Regions from separate parts of the Homo sapiens genome. Here region 2 is linked to region 1. Evidence: fine-mapped expression QTL. A gene starts in region 1. The other region holds a variant in brackets. All regions are shown on one strand. Distances are from middle to middle.

Region 1 (8,344 bases):
ATTTGTAAATTATTGCCTTCAAATGATACATTTTTTGCATATTCTGAAGTGCCTTTTCCATTGCTCTTTTGAAGTGAACTATAATAAATGAAGTAACAAGAAAGATAAAGTTCTCAAATAGGTTGGACTGGACTGTACTTGATTTGGGATTCTGATTAAACCCTCATTAACTCTGACAAACTCAGCTATATGGCATGCTGAGACCTCAGCAGTGGAATAGTAGTACCAGGAGGAGACCAGGACTCATGAGAGTAAGACAAGGAGTCTGGTTCTCATACTGAAAATGTATCCTCTTCTGCCCCAAGATGCTCTCTACAAGATGTTACTCTACAGGATGGAGTAAGATCAGAGGCAGTGGCAATATTCAGACAGTTAAGTCATGTATACTAATATATACCTATAACTAAGTACTATAAGTATTGTTTGGATCCAGAACCAAGCTTTTGAAAAGGCAGGAAGGAGGGTCCCACTCCTATTAAAGGACTGGCAAAAGATAAGCAGGTTATTCTAGTAGGCTGATTCAAACAAAGGCTCTAATCCCAACTGGGGAACTGTTAGAAAAACCATGAAAACAGCTGAAAGCTCTTTCATATACACAGGGCAGTGAGGATTGATGTTAGTTCACAGGACACTTGACTGGGGAGCCAAGCACAGTGGATATTGGGTTTCTGGCAATAGAACTAATTTTAGAAAGCACCAAATGGTAGGTTTGAGCTTACTGTATTTTAAGATTACCTGGAAGCCTGGTGTAAGGCAGAGGAAAAATTCCTGTTGGCTGAAGTCACTAAAGTCAGACACGTAAATTATCTTTCAACTTCTGAAACCAATCAGAATCAAGCATATCCCAGTCTATTATAGTCAAGCTCCTTAAGGATTTTTTTTTTTTTTAGCCTGGTCTGTTGCCCAGGATAGAAGACAGAGGTGCAATCATGGCTGATTGTAGCTTCAACCTCCTAGGTTCAAGTGATCCTCCTATCTCAGCCTCCCGAGTAGCTGGAACAAGCGCATGTTACCACACCCAGTTTTACTTATTTATAGAGATGACAACTTGCTGTTTCCAGGCTGGTCTCTTCCTGGGCTCAAGCAGAGTGCTGGGATTACAGGCATGAGTCACTGCACCTGGTCCCAAGCAGCAGCTATGCTCTGGAGGGTAAACTTAGGAAACTGATCTTAACCAATATCGCCTGAGATTTTAGGAGGCTATGACAGACTAACAGCCTCCTGTGTGATTAGAAATTGCCATCAAGGAGTCAGTAATTGAAACTGAACTTTCAAGTTCAATTCCATTCAAATTAAACCTTTTTGGATCTGACTCTCATTACAGGAATAGTCTTACATTTGTAACTTCCTTGCTCAAGAATCTTAAGGGTATTTATAACATCAGTTTTCTGTCCTACACCTATCCACCCTGTTGGTACCCAAATCCTCAATATTTGTCTCAGACTCTGAACCATACTGTCTTTGCTCAGTTATTTCTTAGGCCTATTGTCCCAACATCTGTGCTGGTTTAGACTCAAATCCACTTGTTCTATTTTCAAGAATCCTTCATAGCTTGACTTTTCCTTGGCATCTTGTGCCACTGTTGACAAAACGGTTTTATTTCAGGAGTCTTGGCAGAGCCTAGCACAAGCCAGTGCATATAAATGTGGAGTACTAATTTCGATAGATAATGTGACATATTAAAAAATCTATTGGGAGGCAAGGGAGGTAGAAGGAGCTACAGGAAAAGCGGTCAGAGGGCTCCAAAGCAACCAGTCTATTTCACAACTTTGTCTTGTTTGCCAGCTTTAACAAAACGGTAATGGCACTCTTCCTTGAAAACTGGAATCTCAATAGTCTTTTACCACATACTGTATAACAGTGCCTGGCCCTATTCTAGGCACTCTTGAACTAATGAAACACAGATCTTAAAATTTTATGCAGAAGTTGTGGGAGGGGGAGAAAGACAATGATTAACAGAGTTTTAAGTACGGTAGGTAAGGGCATCAGAGATCAAGGGTATAAACATAAACACAAGCAATGCTTTCAACTGCCATCTTACACACACTACCTTCATAGTGAAGGTACATTTTCTATCTCCAAACGTTACATGCCTAAGGCTTCTCTCTCATTTTATTTGGTAGTATCAGATAGCATTATGTAACCCATCCTGCCAAATGACCTCTTCCTAGATTTTAGCAAGCCTGAATGTCTTTACCAGATTGTTTTATCAGTAACCTTCCCTCATGACCATACTTAATAAACTGCTATTATTATTCTATTGTGCTCCTTATTTTCTGTATCTCATTCCCCCATTTCTCAACTTAAGCATCCAGGCTTTCAAAATTATAGTTACATCAAAACTAAATATTCCATGATTTGCTTAGTAACAATTACTTCTAATTCCTGTCTCTCCACTCTTACACTGATCCAAAAACCCTTACATTGTACCCTGCACAAACCCGAAACATTCACTCACAGTAATTTGATTACAAGGCTGGTTAGTGGATTTTCCATTTAATGCTCCCCATGTTATTTCAGGACCTATTTAAAAGTAATAACAAAAAGGAACATAATCCAAAATTACATGTTTTATTTTCATGTTTGTAAAACGAAGAGCTTTTTTCTGGATGGTTTTCTTATCAGCTTTTCACACAACAGTCAAGTAAACCTCGTGGCACTAGCCCTAGAAAAGGAAAAACACGAGATTCTTACAAGACTACAAACATTACAACATATGTAAAAGCATTAAAAGTATTAAAAAAAAATATTGTCCTTATAACGGTCCATCTCAGAAGCCAGATCCGTAAAAGTTTTTTTTTTTCAACAGAAGTTCAGGTTCGGGATAAGATCATCACAGATAAGACCAAGGACACAATATTCACTGATCTCTAAGCAAACAGAAAAACTCCACTTACAGAAATCGTTGCAACTTTGGAACTTCCAAGACAATCTGGCCTCTATCAATGGGCAGACAGCGACCCTCACTGTTGGCAGAAAAAAAAAAAACCCAGGATTTTATAACACAACTGTTATAAAATCACGGCAACAAAATTTACTCCACCTCTGAATTACTGGTCTTAATCTCAGAAGCCGAATCCGTACTTATTTTTCTTCAGGTTATCAGCTTCGGGATAGGTTTCATCATTGATTAGACCAATCAGACCTTGTATATGTACACATAATACATTAAACTGCACTTCTGTGACACTGACTACAAACCAAGGTAATGCTAAAAGGCAAGTATTATAGTACAAATACTACAGAACTTTTAAGCCATACAACCTACTTCAAAATGAAGCTGCTAGTCAGTCACATTCGACATTCATTATCTTCACTGGCTACTCGTCCACACTCAGAACGCTGTTCACTGACAAAAAAAATTTGATTTAGTCTAGGTGTGGATTAAATGCTATGCTCAATCATAAAGTACTAAAACAACACATACCTGTTAAAAGTGTCAGGTTTTAACCAAGCGATTTTCCATTAAATATTCTCCCAGATGTTCTGGAAGTTTTTTCGTGTATCTAACAAAAAAAAGTAAATTTCAAACGATGCAACAGTTCCTATTCCTGTAAATCAACAGGTTTACTCCTTTAGTTTGGAAACTAAGCTTAACTAAGCTCTTACCTTTGCATCTTCAGAGCTGCTCCACTGTGCCACTGAAGACAGCGCCATTGTTCCTGCGGGAAATCGGTATTTAAGCATTCTCGCAGAAATGTCACACTCCAAGGCGTTTTTCCACACAAAACCCTTCCCCTTCATTAATCCGAATTGCACACAACGCCGCCTTCGAACAGCTCAGTTTCAATACAGGGTCGAGGCTTCCCATTTTAAAACAACGCCGACGGAAGGCCTTCGCCATTTTAGTAAAGGCCCTTTGCTGTTAAAACTAACCCTCCGCCCCAATTAAGGTGGTTTTTCCGCCGCCGCTCAGGCACATGCCGGAGGCCAGCAAGTTCGGCGCCCGTGGCCGATCAGCGGTTCCTCACGCCAAAACTCGGAGCCTGTGGCCGTCACGACTCAACCTCAGTACATGTGGCAGTCCGGCCGCACGTTTCCCACGTGCAAGCTTTCAACTCTCAGCACTCTAAACTCTTCACTAAGATGTCTTCACAGGATTAAAGCTCTTAACTCGGCCTGCGCCACCATCTTTTGCTCGGATACTAGCCCGCAATACCCACTCACCTACCACCCGCCCAGACGCTCGCGAAGGCCGACGTAAAAGACCGAAGTGCGCAGCCAGTAGCTCCTTATATAGCCTCCCGGAGTCAGAACGAGGCCGTCCCGCCCTCTCGCACCTATTGGACATGGAAGTAGACAGGGGTGTGGTCGCGAATTAGCGGGAGCGCGCGCGGTGGCTCTTCTGAGGCCCGTTCCGCGTTGTGGAGCGCGCCGCAGGCCGGCCGCGCGCCCGGCCATTTCCCGGCGCGCGCCCGCAGGCGCACTGCGAAGCGTCTCTTACGAGTCTGGCGGCCGACTTGGCCCTACGTGGCGCGGGTGTGGCGCCAGAATTCAAACAGCTGCAGTTGGAAACGACGCTTTCGCCTGCCACGAGCCAAGTCCGTCCAGGACAGATTGGGTCCGAGAGTGGACACAAGTTTTGCAGCGCAGGGCGGCCTCAGCTTAGGACCGATTCGAGAAGCTGGGCTGGCTGGCTGGCTGGCGCTGGGCTGTAGTGGGCCCCCAGCGGAGGCCGCCGGAGGAGCGGGCGAGCCCTGGCCGCAGCACTCCGGGAAAGGGCAGTTGGCTGGCAGAAACGCTTGGGTGAAAAAGCGGAAAGCGCCACGTGAGAACAGCCCCGGCGTGCGGCCCTGCAGGGCCTCAGGGCGGGCATCAAGGCCCCATGGGGATCCATTCCTCCTCACGCTTCCTCGTGCCAGGCATCCGGTTACACTAAACGTGACCATACAAGTCTCCCTCAAACAGCGAACGTGAGGTTCAATACTCCATTTCGCAGAGGAGAAAACTGAGGCTTAAAACAGCCAGGTAATTTGCCTAAGGTCACACAGCTGAAATGCTTTGCTAATTTTTAACTTCTTTGTACTCAATTAGTTATATTGAAAACGAGAGAAAGATTAATTTGAGAAGTATCCCTGAATACTTTATCCAGACGACAAACACAAAATTCAAAAGCAGTGCTTTGATTAATTAGCATGTTCGAGTGAATATGTCTGCGTGTGTGTGTGTGCACACGACATTTGAACATTTCAGTATTTGAAAATTCAGGTCGTTCTTCACTTCTATATTTCAAAGCACTACTTATTAAAGTTGTTTATGTGTGCATTTGATTACGGTCCGATTCTGCTAGAGTGTGGGAGCAACACATCTGATTTCGTGCTCTGCTGTTTATTTTTTCTTAGAACAGTGCCTAGCATTAAGTAGGTTGTCGGTAATGGTTAAATGAATGAATGAATGAACAAATACATTCGGTGGCTTTTTAGAAAATTAGAATGAAGATCAAACTTCACATTCAAAGATAGTAGTGAAAAGCACTTTTCTCTAACAGGAACCTATATGATGAAGTATTGACTGGGCCGGGCATTTTGTCGGTTTTTGTATTACTTTGTAATGTCTTACATAAATTTGCATATTGCTCATAGTAAATAGTAAAACAAACAATACAGTACAAAAGGATATAAGAAGCAAAGTAGGCCGGGTGTGGTGGCTTATGTCTGTAATTAGAGCACTTTTGGAGGCTGAGGTGGGAGGATTGAGCCCAAGACCCTGTCTCTATTGTATTAAAAAAATTTTTAAAAAGAGTTAACAAAAAAAGCAAAGTGAAAGTATCTTTCCACATGCCTGGGAATCTTCTCCCTAGTTGTACTCTTCAGCAATACCACTGTTAACAGTTTTTGAGACTTCCTATGCAAATGCAAATATATGTACTTCGTTTTTCACATACAAATGGGATCTATATGTTCTGCAACTTGTTTGTCCGTCTTGTAAATATCATAAACATCTTTCCATATCAGTACATATAGATGACTTTTTTTTTCCAGACAAGGTCTCACTTTGTGACCCAGGCTGGAGTGCAGTGGCTCTATCTCTGTTCACTGCAATCTCGGGATCAAGTGATCCTTCTGCCTCAGCCCACCAACCATGTGGGACTACAAGCACGCGCCATCACGCCCTGTAATTTTTCTGTATTTTTCGTAGAGATAGAGTTTCTGCCATTCTGAAGACCACAAACATCACCTGGTCAAAAGCCATATAAAACAGTGATTCCTTACCCTGACTTACCAGTTAAAATCTGGTAAGTTAAAAAATATCAAATTTCTGGGCCCGAACCTGGAACCTTGAAAGCATAATGTTCAAAAGTGGGACCCAAAAATCCACATTTTAAACAAGCATTAGAGGCAATACTGTCCAATTGGAATATAATATGAACCACAAATGCAAGCTACACACGTAATTAAAAATGTACTAGTAGCCATATATATATATATATATATTTTTTTTTTTTTTTTTTTTTTTGAGAGTCTCACTCTGTCACCCAGGCTGGAGTGCAGTGGCTCGATTTCGGTTCACTGCAAGCTCTGCCTCCCGGGTTCACGCCATTCTCCTGCCTCAGCCTCCTGAGTAACTGGGACTACAGGCGCCCGCCACCACGCCCGGCTAATTTTTTTTTTTTGCATTTTTAGTAGAGTCGGGGTTTCACCATGTTAACCAGGATGGTCTCGATATCCTGACCTCGTAGTCCGCCCGCCTCGGCCTCCCAAAGTGTTGAGATTACAGGCGTGAACCACCACGCCAGGCCACACATTTTTAAAATGTAAAAAGGATCAGATGGGCCGGGCGTGGTGGTTCATGCCTGTAAGCCCAGCACTTTGGGAAGCCAAAACGGGTGGATTGCTTGAGCTCAGGAATTTGGGACCAGCCTGGGCAACATGGCAAAACTCTGTCTCTACAAAAAAAAAAATCAAAAATAAAAAATTAGCCGGGTGTGGTGGCTGAGGTGAGAACATAGCTTGAGCCCAGGAGGCAGAGGTTGCAGTGAGCTTGTGCACTGAGATTGTGCCTCTGCCTTCCAGCCTTGGTAACAGAGCCAGACCCTGTCTCAAAAAAAAAAAAAAAAGAAAAAAGGAAAGAAAAATGAAATTAGTTCTAATCTATTTTATTTAACCCAAATATAATCAAAGTTTTTTATTTTGACATAGAAACAATGTAAAAATCATTGAAATATTTTCCATTTGTTTTTTGTATGCAGTAAATGAAATCAGGTGTGTATTTTTTACTTACATCTCAATTTGGTCTGTACATTTATTACTTTTTAACTTTTAGGTTCGCGGACACATGCACAGGTTTGCTATATATAGGTAAACTCGTATCACAGGGATTTTTTTATACAGATTATTTTGTCACCCACGTATTATGCCTAGTACCCAGTAGTTATTTTTTCTGCTCCCTTCCATCCTCCAACCCTCCACCCTCAAGGAGGCCCTAGTGTCTGTAGTTCCCTTTTTTGTATTCATGAGTTCCCATCATTTAGCTCCCACTTATAAGTGAGAACACGCAGTATTTGGTTTTCTATTCCTGGATTAGTTTGCTAAGGATGATGGCTGCAGGTCCATCCATGTTCCTGCAAAAGACATGATCTCATTCTTTTTTATGGCTGTATAGTATTCCATGGTATATATGTACCACATTTTCTTTATTCAATCTGTCATTGATGGGCATTTAGGTTGATTTCATATCTTTGCTATTGTGGATAGTGCTGCAATGAACATTTACGTGCATGCGTGGTCTGTACTTTTCAAGTGCTCAGTTGTCACATGTGGCTGGCCGCTGCATTGGACAGCACACGTGTAGGGTGATTCATATAGATGTTTGAGAACCACAGTCTTAGGGTAAGAGAGGTACTACATATGTGATATACAGTCCAATCCTTTTTTAAAAAAAACCTTCCATGTTATTATTATTCTTTTTTATACGGACAGGGTCTTGCTCACTCAGGCTGGAGTGTAGTAGTGTGATCACAGCTCACTGCAGCCTGGAACTCCTTAGCTCAAGTGATCCTTCTGCCTCAGCCTCCCAAGTAGCTGGGACTACAGGTGTGTACTACCACACCTGACCAATTTTTTTTTTTTTTGGTTGAAACAGGGTCTTGCTCTGTTGACCAGGCTGGTCTCAAACTCCTGGCCTCAAGCAATCCTTCCACCTGGACCTCCCAAAGTGTTGGGATTACAGACATGGGCCATCTTGCTGAGCCCCGAATTACTTTTGATTCAAAAACTAATAACTGTAACAAGGGCAATGCAAAAATGAAATTAACTCAGAGCCTGATAATTGACAACAGTGCCTTCCTGTGAACGTGGTCAATGACTATAAAGTCAGTACACAACTCCTTTAAGATGTTTATCTC
Region 2 (8,344 bases), 860 kb after region 1:
AATCAAGATCATCATCTCTAACCAATTTTCATTTCTTGTTTTTATGATCATTTTTCCAGTGGTATTAAAAATCTCAAAGTGACTTAGTGTCAGTACCAACTTTCATTTCTATGTTTCCCCTGATGAAAGCATTTCTCCTTGAATACTAAAATATCTAATCAAGTAAAGACACAGTTGTAGGGAAGTGACGTGAAAACTTTGAGCAGGTCATTAGGTATAATAATAAGGGTTGTCATCTCACTTCTAAGGTTTCTGGATGCCTTATATTCAGTCTATAGAAAAAACAATAGCACCTTAAATCAACTGCTGGCTCAGAGCAAGGAATGCTTTCTCTAAGAGAGTATCCAGTGGTGTGCTGGCATATATTTAAGAACTAGCTCAGAAAAATAAAAGGCTTTGATTTCTATCATTAGCTTATTTTGGTGGTATAAATGTTCCTACCATGTTTGACATCATTAAACACAGAAGTGGGAAGAGGTATGCTGCGTAGCACACCACTATATTGTATTTTTACCATAAAGACACAATAAACATAGATAACCTCAAGATCACAGGTAATGGCAAAATTTAGTGAACTGATTAAAATGTAGTAAGTTCTATTGAGTATTGATTGTTTTTAATTTTAAGTTTGTGCAACTTAATTTTTAGTAATGACTGTGTTTAACAAATGGCTTACAAAATGGGGCTAACAATATCTATCTCACATGCACATTTTTTCTGACATCAGTAAGAGTGTACAAAGATCTCATTTATATATCGTTCACCTTAATAAATTCTGGCTATAATTCTATAGATACCTTAGCCAGAGTGCCTTATGACGTTTTTAGAATAGTTTTTTCAATTCCTACCTGATCAAAACAATATTAATTCCATCTAGCTCTCTCTCTCTATATATATGTATATATATAATATATGTATATATATAATTGATTGAATAAATTTAAAAATACATATTAATTTATTATAGCATATTTTTCTGTTTGGACAATGAATGTTGTCAAATATGTATTATGCCTATGCTATCAACAGGAGAGCAACAAAAAGTTTTTATAAACCTCATGGGGAAGGGAACCTGATGTGGGTTTATTATGGTCTCTCCAAAACCCACCCATATGGTCAACTATTGGCACTAAAATGATAAATGAATCTTAGTTCTTCTACTGAGTGGAGGCATGGGCAACAAGCCACATGCTCTCTGGTTACAATTGGATTCCTTATTTTTGGAATATTTTGAAATAGCCACCAAATTCCTAAGAGATAATTGATTTTAAAAATACAATTTCTGTGAGATTTTTTATCATTAAATTCCAAAAGATCAGTCTTTTCTGTCTTTTCACACTGTATTCTCAGTGCTTAACATAGTACATGAAACATAGCAGGCACTCAATAAATATTGCTTGAATAAATAAATTGATTATTTAAACTTTTGTGTTTTTCTCTTTAGGAAACCTAGCCTAATTAAAAAGTGTGTCTAAAATGCCATAATCCTGTGACCCTCTGTATGATCCTATGATTATATGTTTATAATCAGGACTCAGTTGATTTTATTTCAAACATCTGAGGCAAATATAACTCAGGAGGAAAAATTTAGCTTCTCATGTCAACAAATGATAGAGGATCTCTGCAGAAATATGTTAGTACCAAAAATTACCCATTAGGTAATTACATAGCTTAATTTCTAAATCAATGAAGGGCTCTCTGTACATGAAGATAAATTCAACTACACACATATTTTTAAAAGCTAATAGGAGGGCTATAGCGTGACTTAGATTTATATAGTATAGCAAAAGCAGGCTTCATCAGCTATCATGATGAAATGTGTGGTAATTTTGTCCACATAGATACTTTCTGAATATCAATGACAAGAACTTGAACCCTTACCCCCGATTTAAAACTAAAAAATATAAGAACAACCTTCCAATGGGTGGAGGTTGTTATTCAGGTTCAAAATGTTAAACAGTACTCCAAGGAGTGAAGTCAAGTGTAGGTTACCAGACTGAAGTCATTTTCACGATGTTGAGGCAGAAAAGTAAAATTTGGCACTGACTCCAAGCAGGGAGCAGGTCACCAGCACAGAGAAGATATAGGTAATCTAGGATTTTTGATTAATGTGATGGGGTATAAAGGAGAACTGGTCAAAGCTTTTTTAGAATAGCAGGAAACTGTCCATGGGACAAAATAAACAACTTTTCATATCCATTTGCTTACAGGCTTTCATGACCATGAGAAAAGGATTGAATTGAGACGAGGGCTTGTGAAACATTTATGAAAGCGTTTCTCTATCTGAATGAGTTTTTGCTAGAAAAATATAAAACTTTCTTGACATGACAGTGTTTGTGTGGAAATTGAAATGGTGAAGATCCTCGATCTAGATAACTAATTTATTTTTTGTAGCTTCTTATATTTCTATGTATATGTATCTGACTGTGTATATGTAGATCTACAACTATCTTTATTTCTGTATATCTTATATAAATATATTTTATATATTTGGCATATTGATTACTTCAGCTGTCCCGAAGTCATGACGTTAGGTAAATTTCTCCTGGTATTGGTAACAGTGTGGTAGGTGCCTCTAAAATGAGCCCCCATGATCTGTTCCTGTGGGTATTCATGACGTTGTGCAATCACCTCCCCTTGTGTGTTGCTTGGGCCTAGTGACTCTCATAACAAATAGAATATGGTAAATATGATTAGATATCACTTCTGAGGATAGATTACATTAAAATAAAACACTCTGGCTTCTGTCTTGCTCAATCTCTCTCATTATTTTTTGCCCTCTTTCAGAGCCCTTGCTCTGAGGGATACCAGCTGTCTGTTATGAGTAGCTCTATAAAAAGCACCATGTGGCAAAGAACTGACGTCTCAGGTTAACAGTTAATCAGGACTAAGGTCCTTAGTCCAAGAGCACTAGAGGAACAGAATCCTGCCAGTGAACATGCAAGTGAGCTGAGAGGTGAACCCACCCCAGTCAAGCTTTGAGCCTTCTGTTGCCCTAGCTGACACTTTGATCACAGCCTGTCAGATACCCTGAGCCAGAGGATCCAGAAAGCTGCACCCAGAATCCTGAACCACAAAACTGAGAAATAATAAATGTGTGTTGATAGTGTGTTTATTAAGTTTTGGAGTAATTGGTTTGCAGTAATTATTAATATAAATAGATATATTCTTACTAGCAAAGCTATTATTTAAACTGTTTTGTTGGCCACTTGTTAACTCACGTTAAATTTGCAGCAAGATACAACTACTGAGCTTTTTAATTCTAGTCTCCTCTACTTCAAAGAGTGTGAGAGATATCTACCGCAGCAGTGTCTGGATCTGAATTGCTTACACTCACTTCTCAGCCTAACCATACATTAGTTGTGTATTCTTGAAAAGTTATTAAACTTCTCTTGACTTTATTGTTGGCATGCATCTGTAAAATGGGGACGATAATAGTATCCACAGACTCCCTACTACCCACTGCCTCCCTCGCCACATATACACTCTGAAATTCCTTGATTTCATGGCTAGTCTCCAGGACAAAACTATGTGGGAAAGACCTGGAAGTGCTGTTCAATCTAATCCTGTTACTCTGTAGATTAACTACAGATCATTGATCTACCTAGAAATTTTGTGAATAAATCTCTAGGAAGTCTGATACTGCTGACTAAAATGTCTGGAAAAATTATTCTTTGACAATTATAATTTAAAGTGTCAGAATATAAGAATTAAAAGTTACTTCAATGTCTTATTATATGTTTTTCTAGATCAGATGAGTAAAATGAAATAGTGAAAGTTTAGATAATTTTCAGGCTTTTACTATTTTATGTCCCTTTTTTCAGTTACAACTCTTACCACAATATTGTGCAATATGCCTGTTTTATATTCCTTCTTCCATTGTTCTATGAAGTCTATAAGGGCAAGAAGATTTCTTTTTCATATCTACAATTTCAGAAATCAGCATAGAGCTTGGCATACAATAGAGGCTCAATGAAGGTTTGCTGAACAAGGAAACACATGCATGCAAAGTCAATGATAAATACAGAAAACTTTGAAATAATTCCTTGTGTATTGATTTACATAAATGATGCTTTTATTATATAATTGAAGTTAATAAAGTTACAAATGAATATTAGAATTAATCACTCAAGAAGCATTTATCTAAGAACACCCCTCCTGACTTTTGTAATTTTTCTCTGTTCAATAGAGAATAGGACCTCTTTGGTATATGTGTGTATGTGTGTGTATTCATATAGTTATATATGTGTATATCTATGCACATATATAATATACTGTTCATGTATACTGTATATATATGCACACATATACATACATATATGTGAGAAGGCTAAGTAAGCCTGTTTGTACAAACACATCAGTGAGGCTGCTATCTTCAAGAAAGGAAAATATTCACAAATTTAGATAGCAAAAAATTGGAGTAGGAGCCTGTTCACCCAAGTGAATGTCTGTTTGAATGTGAGTAGGAGATATTTTGACATGGAGGAGGCTTCTGGAGTCCTTGCCTAATGAAGACTTTACCACAATCAACCTTCTGTCCTCCCGACCTCCCTCACCAACATCTCCCCTACATCTGCATTTCAAGAAAACCATGATGACAAGCATTGCAGAGGTACACCATCCACCTCTCTCAGTCAACAATTTTCCTCAGGAAGATTGCATGACTTCACTTAACACATGTTGAATATTTGAAATCACAAACCACAGGTTTAAAAGTTAGAGCCCTCTGTATTGCTGTCAGATTCTCAGTATGTTT[C/T]CTCACTTACCCTCTCTCCCCCTCTTTTACACACACATAATTTTTTTTTGCATGATATTGATTGGAATCTATAACCCAGAAAGACTCATAGACAGTGCCTGGTAAACCAGAGCATATGACAGTGTGAGTCATCCAGCAGGCTGCAAAAGAAGGAAAGCTGGGTCACAAACTTGCTTTTCAGCACTATCTTGCTACAGAGGAATTGCTCTGCCTAATTTGATTAAAATGGCATGTGACATAATTGTCTTTTGAAAAGAAAACGTGCTTTTAGTCACTACATTAGGATGCAATTTTGTGATTAACATGAGCAATTTCAGAACAGATTTCTCTCATATGCAATGGTCTAATCAAATTAAGGTAAATGAATACAACATTCGTTAAAGTGATTTATTCAAATCCATTAAAATGAAACATGAAATTTAATCAAAGTCATAGGGATGCATGTATGCCATACATGTAAATCAGAAGTGGCTATCTCTGTATTTATGTAATCCAGTCACATCTGGATCCCCAAGCAAGACAGTTAGATATTACATAATATAATTAAGGGTAGAGAGCCTAAGGGAAGAATTAGGTAAAAGGACATCAAATGATGGAGGAAGAACTTGGGAGAGGAGTAAAGGAGACCCCATGGGAAGGCAACAGATGGAATGAATGTGTTTAAAAAGAAGAGGAAATCACAGGGAGAATAGGAGGAATGACTTCTGCTCAGTTGTTGAAATAGTCTATAATTTATATTTGCATGTTTGGTCTGCACAATTACCCCACTGGATAGAAATCTGTGTTCATCTACTCACTGACTCAACAAATATTTATTTAAAGCCTACTCTGTGTCAGGCTTTGTTCTTGATCCTGGAAATAAAACAGTGGACAACAGAGATATAGCCTCTTCCATTACATAACTTTAATTTTAGTTTGCAGAGACAATAGTAGCAACAAAGGCAAACAAACAAATAGGTAAATAAGACAGATTTTAGAGATGAGTCTCAGAGCTTATGTTAGTTTCTTATTGCTGCTGTAATAAATTATCACAAATTTAGTGGTTTAAAAGCAATACAAATTTATTGTCTTACAGTTGTAGAGGTCAGAAATCTAAAATGGGTTGGCAGGGCTGAGTGTCTCCTGGAGGCTCAAGGAGAAAATTCATTTCCTTTCCTTTTCCAGCTTCTAGGTGCTACATGCATTCCTTAGCTTGTGGCCCCACATTGCTCTGCTCTGTCCTCACATCTTCATCTTAAGTATGACTCTCCTGCCTAACAAGGGCCCTGGTGATTACACTGGGTCCATTTGGGTAATCCAGGATTATCTCAGGATCCTTAATTCAATCACTTCTGCAAAGCCTCATTTGTAATGTAAGGTAACATATTGATAGGTTCCAGGGATTAGGATGTGGGCATCTTTGGAGGGACTTATTCAGTCTAACACAGAGCCTAAGTGAATTATTCAACTTCCTGCATCTGGTCCAGACCTTCAGTCTTCTGAGTCCAAGTGCAGTAGTCTTTCTCCTTTCCCATGGCTGAATCCCATCACCTCTGTTCATCCTCTACCTCCTGCAGACACAGAGTCCATTTTTACATTCTTTGATGATTTCCACATTTTTAGCTGCTCTGCTTCACTCATGTAGTGTTTCTGAAGCCAGTGAGAACAAACCTAGTTTACTCCAAGGGAATAGTGACTGACAATGCATTAATATGTCCATATGTTTAACAGATATTTGCAGAGTGCTGCTTATGTGCTAAATGCAGAACTGCAGAGTAGGAAACAAAACATATCATTCTTGCCTTATTGGAACTTTCAGTCTTGCAGGAAATATAGATATTACATTATCTAAAAAGTAGAAAATTATGAATTCTATTAAATGGTAAGGAGGGCAACCTCAAGGCCCTGAGGTAGGAATGAGCTTGAAAAATTGGATAATAATTTTTTTGAAAAATCCTGCGACTGGAGCATAATGAGCGAGGGAGAGAAGGTGTCTCAGATGAGAAAAGCCTGATAGGCAGGATTAGTGTATGTCAAGTGGGGCACATGGGGAAGAGTTTAGATTTTATTTTAAAGTGCAATGGGAAGTTATTGAAGAATGTTAAGGTGATAGAAAAGTTATTTAATCATATTTGTGCTTTCAAAAGAAGAGTTTGGCTTTCATGAGAATAGAGGAAAAAGACTCAAGGTTGGAGCCAAGAGTTCAATAACAAAGCTGTTCTCATGAAGGGAAGAGATAACTGTGGCTTGGACTAGAACTGGACCATGGAGGAGACAAGAAGTAGAGAGATGTGAGATAAATTTTGGGGTAGGAGCAGCAAGATTTGCTGATAGATCAAATATGAGGGCACATACAAATTACATTTGACCCCCGGGTTGCAACTTTGAGAATCTGGATAGATTGTGGGGCTATTTATTGAGACACCAAAGACCAGAGGAGGAATGACTTTCAGGCATAAAATCAATAAAATCCTCTTTACACACTCTGTTAGGTCATTCTTGCATTGCTACAAAGAAATACCTGAGACTGGGTAATTTATAAAGAAAAGAGATTTGTCTGGGCTCAGTGGCTCATGCTTGTAGTCCCAGCACTTTAGGAGGTCAAGGCTGGTAGATTGCTTGAGCCCAAGAGCTTGAGGACCAGCCTGGGCAAATGGCCAAACCCCACCTCTACAAAAAATGGAAAAAAAAAAAAATGCCAGGCATGGTGACTCAAGCCTGTAGTCTCAGCTACTCAGGAGGCTGAGATGGGAGAATCACCTGAGCAAGGTAGGTCTAGGCTGCAGTGAGTTATGATGGCACCACTGCATTCCAGCCTGGGTGACAAAATAAGACCCTGTTAAAAAAAAAAAAAAGGAAAGAAGAACGAAAGAAAGAAAGAAAGAAAAGAAAAGAAATTTAATTGGCTAATAGTTCTACAGGCTTTATAGGAAGCATGGTGCTGGCATCTGCTCAGCTTCTGGGGAGGCCTCAGGAAATGTACAGTCATGATGGAAAATGAAGAGGGAGCAGGCACATCACATGTCAAAAGCAGAGAAAGCAGGGGGAGGGGGAGAGGAGGAGAGGTGCCACACACTTTTAAACAACCAGATTTTGCTAGAATTCACCCACTATTATGAGGCCAGCACCAAGAGAATGCCATTCATGAGAAATCCACAACCATGATCCAGTTGCCTCCTACCAGACCCCACTTTCCACACTGAGGATTACATTTCAATATGAGATTTGGGCAGGGACAAATATCTAAACTATATCAGAGACTTTACATTTGCGATTCTTGTGAAATTTCAAGTGAAGATATCAAGTAGACAGTTGGATAAATGAGTCTAGAAGTCAAAGGAGAAATCCAAGGTAAACATATAAATTTGGAACTTCCCTATAGAGACAGCACATAAAGCTATATGAATGGGTGGAATCAGTAATGGAGAGAGTGGAAACAGAAAATGGAAGGGCTTAGGAGTAAGCCCCAGGGAATCCACACATTCAGAGTGGGAGAAGAATCAGGGAGAAAGAAGGCTAAGAATCAGGACCAGAGATGCAGAGGAAACTCAGAGAAGCACCATGTCAATAAAGCCAAGAGGAGAGTGTCTCAAGAAGAGCAAGTGGTTA

Evidence for each region.
Region 2: its variant is fine-mapped to the expression of SNHG5 in whole blood (INTERVAL, PIP above 0.99).

The regions. Positions count from the first base shown.
Region 1 is chr6:85,674,527-85,682,870 of GRCh38, forward strand. SNHG5 (small nucleolar RNA host gene 5) reads right to left here and starts at 4,207. Exons shown (of 6, transcript NR_003038.2): 1 at 4,168-4,207; 2 at 3,610-3,662; 3 at 3,428-3,506; 4 at 3,269-3,349; 5 at 2,898-2,966; 6 at 2,481-2,665. SNORD50A (small nucleolar RNA, C/D box 50A) reads right to left here and starts at 2,842; the gene lies at 2,768-2,842. It overlaps SNORD50B (small nucleolar RNA, C/D box 50B), which reads right to left and starts at 3,133; the gene lies at 3,063-3,133. RefSeq lists enhancers at 3,788-3,847, 4,018-4,177.
Region 2 is chr6:86,532,479-86,540,822 of GRCh38, forward strand. No RefSeq gene overlaps it. Among named protein-coding and RNA genes, the nearest start is that of HTR1E, 400 kb to the right of the region's middle. The variant C/T (reference allele first, on the strand shown) is at 4,757.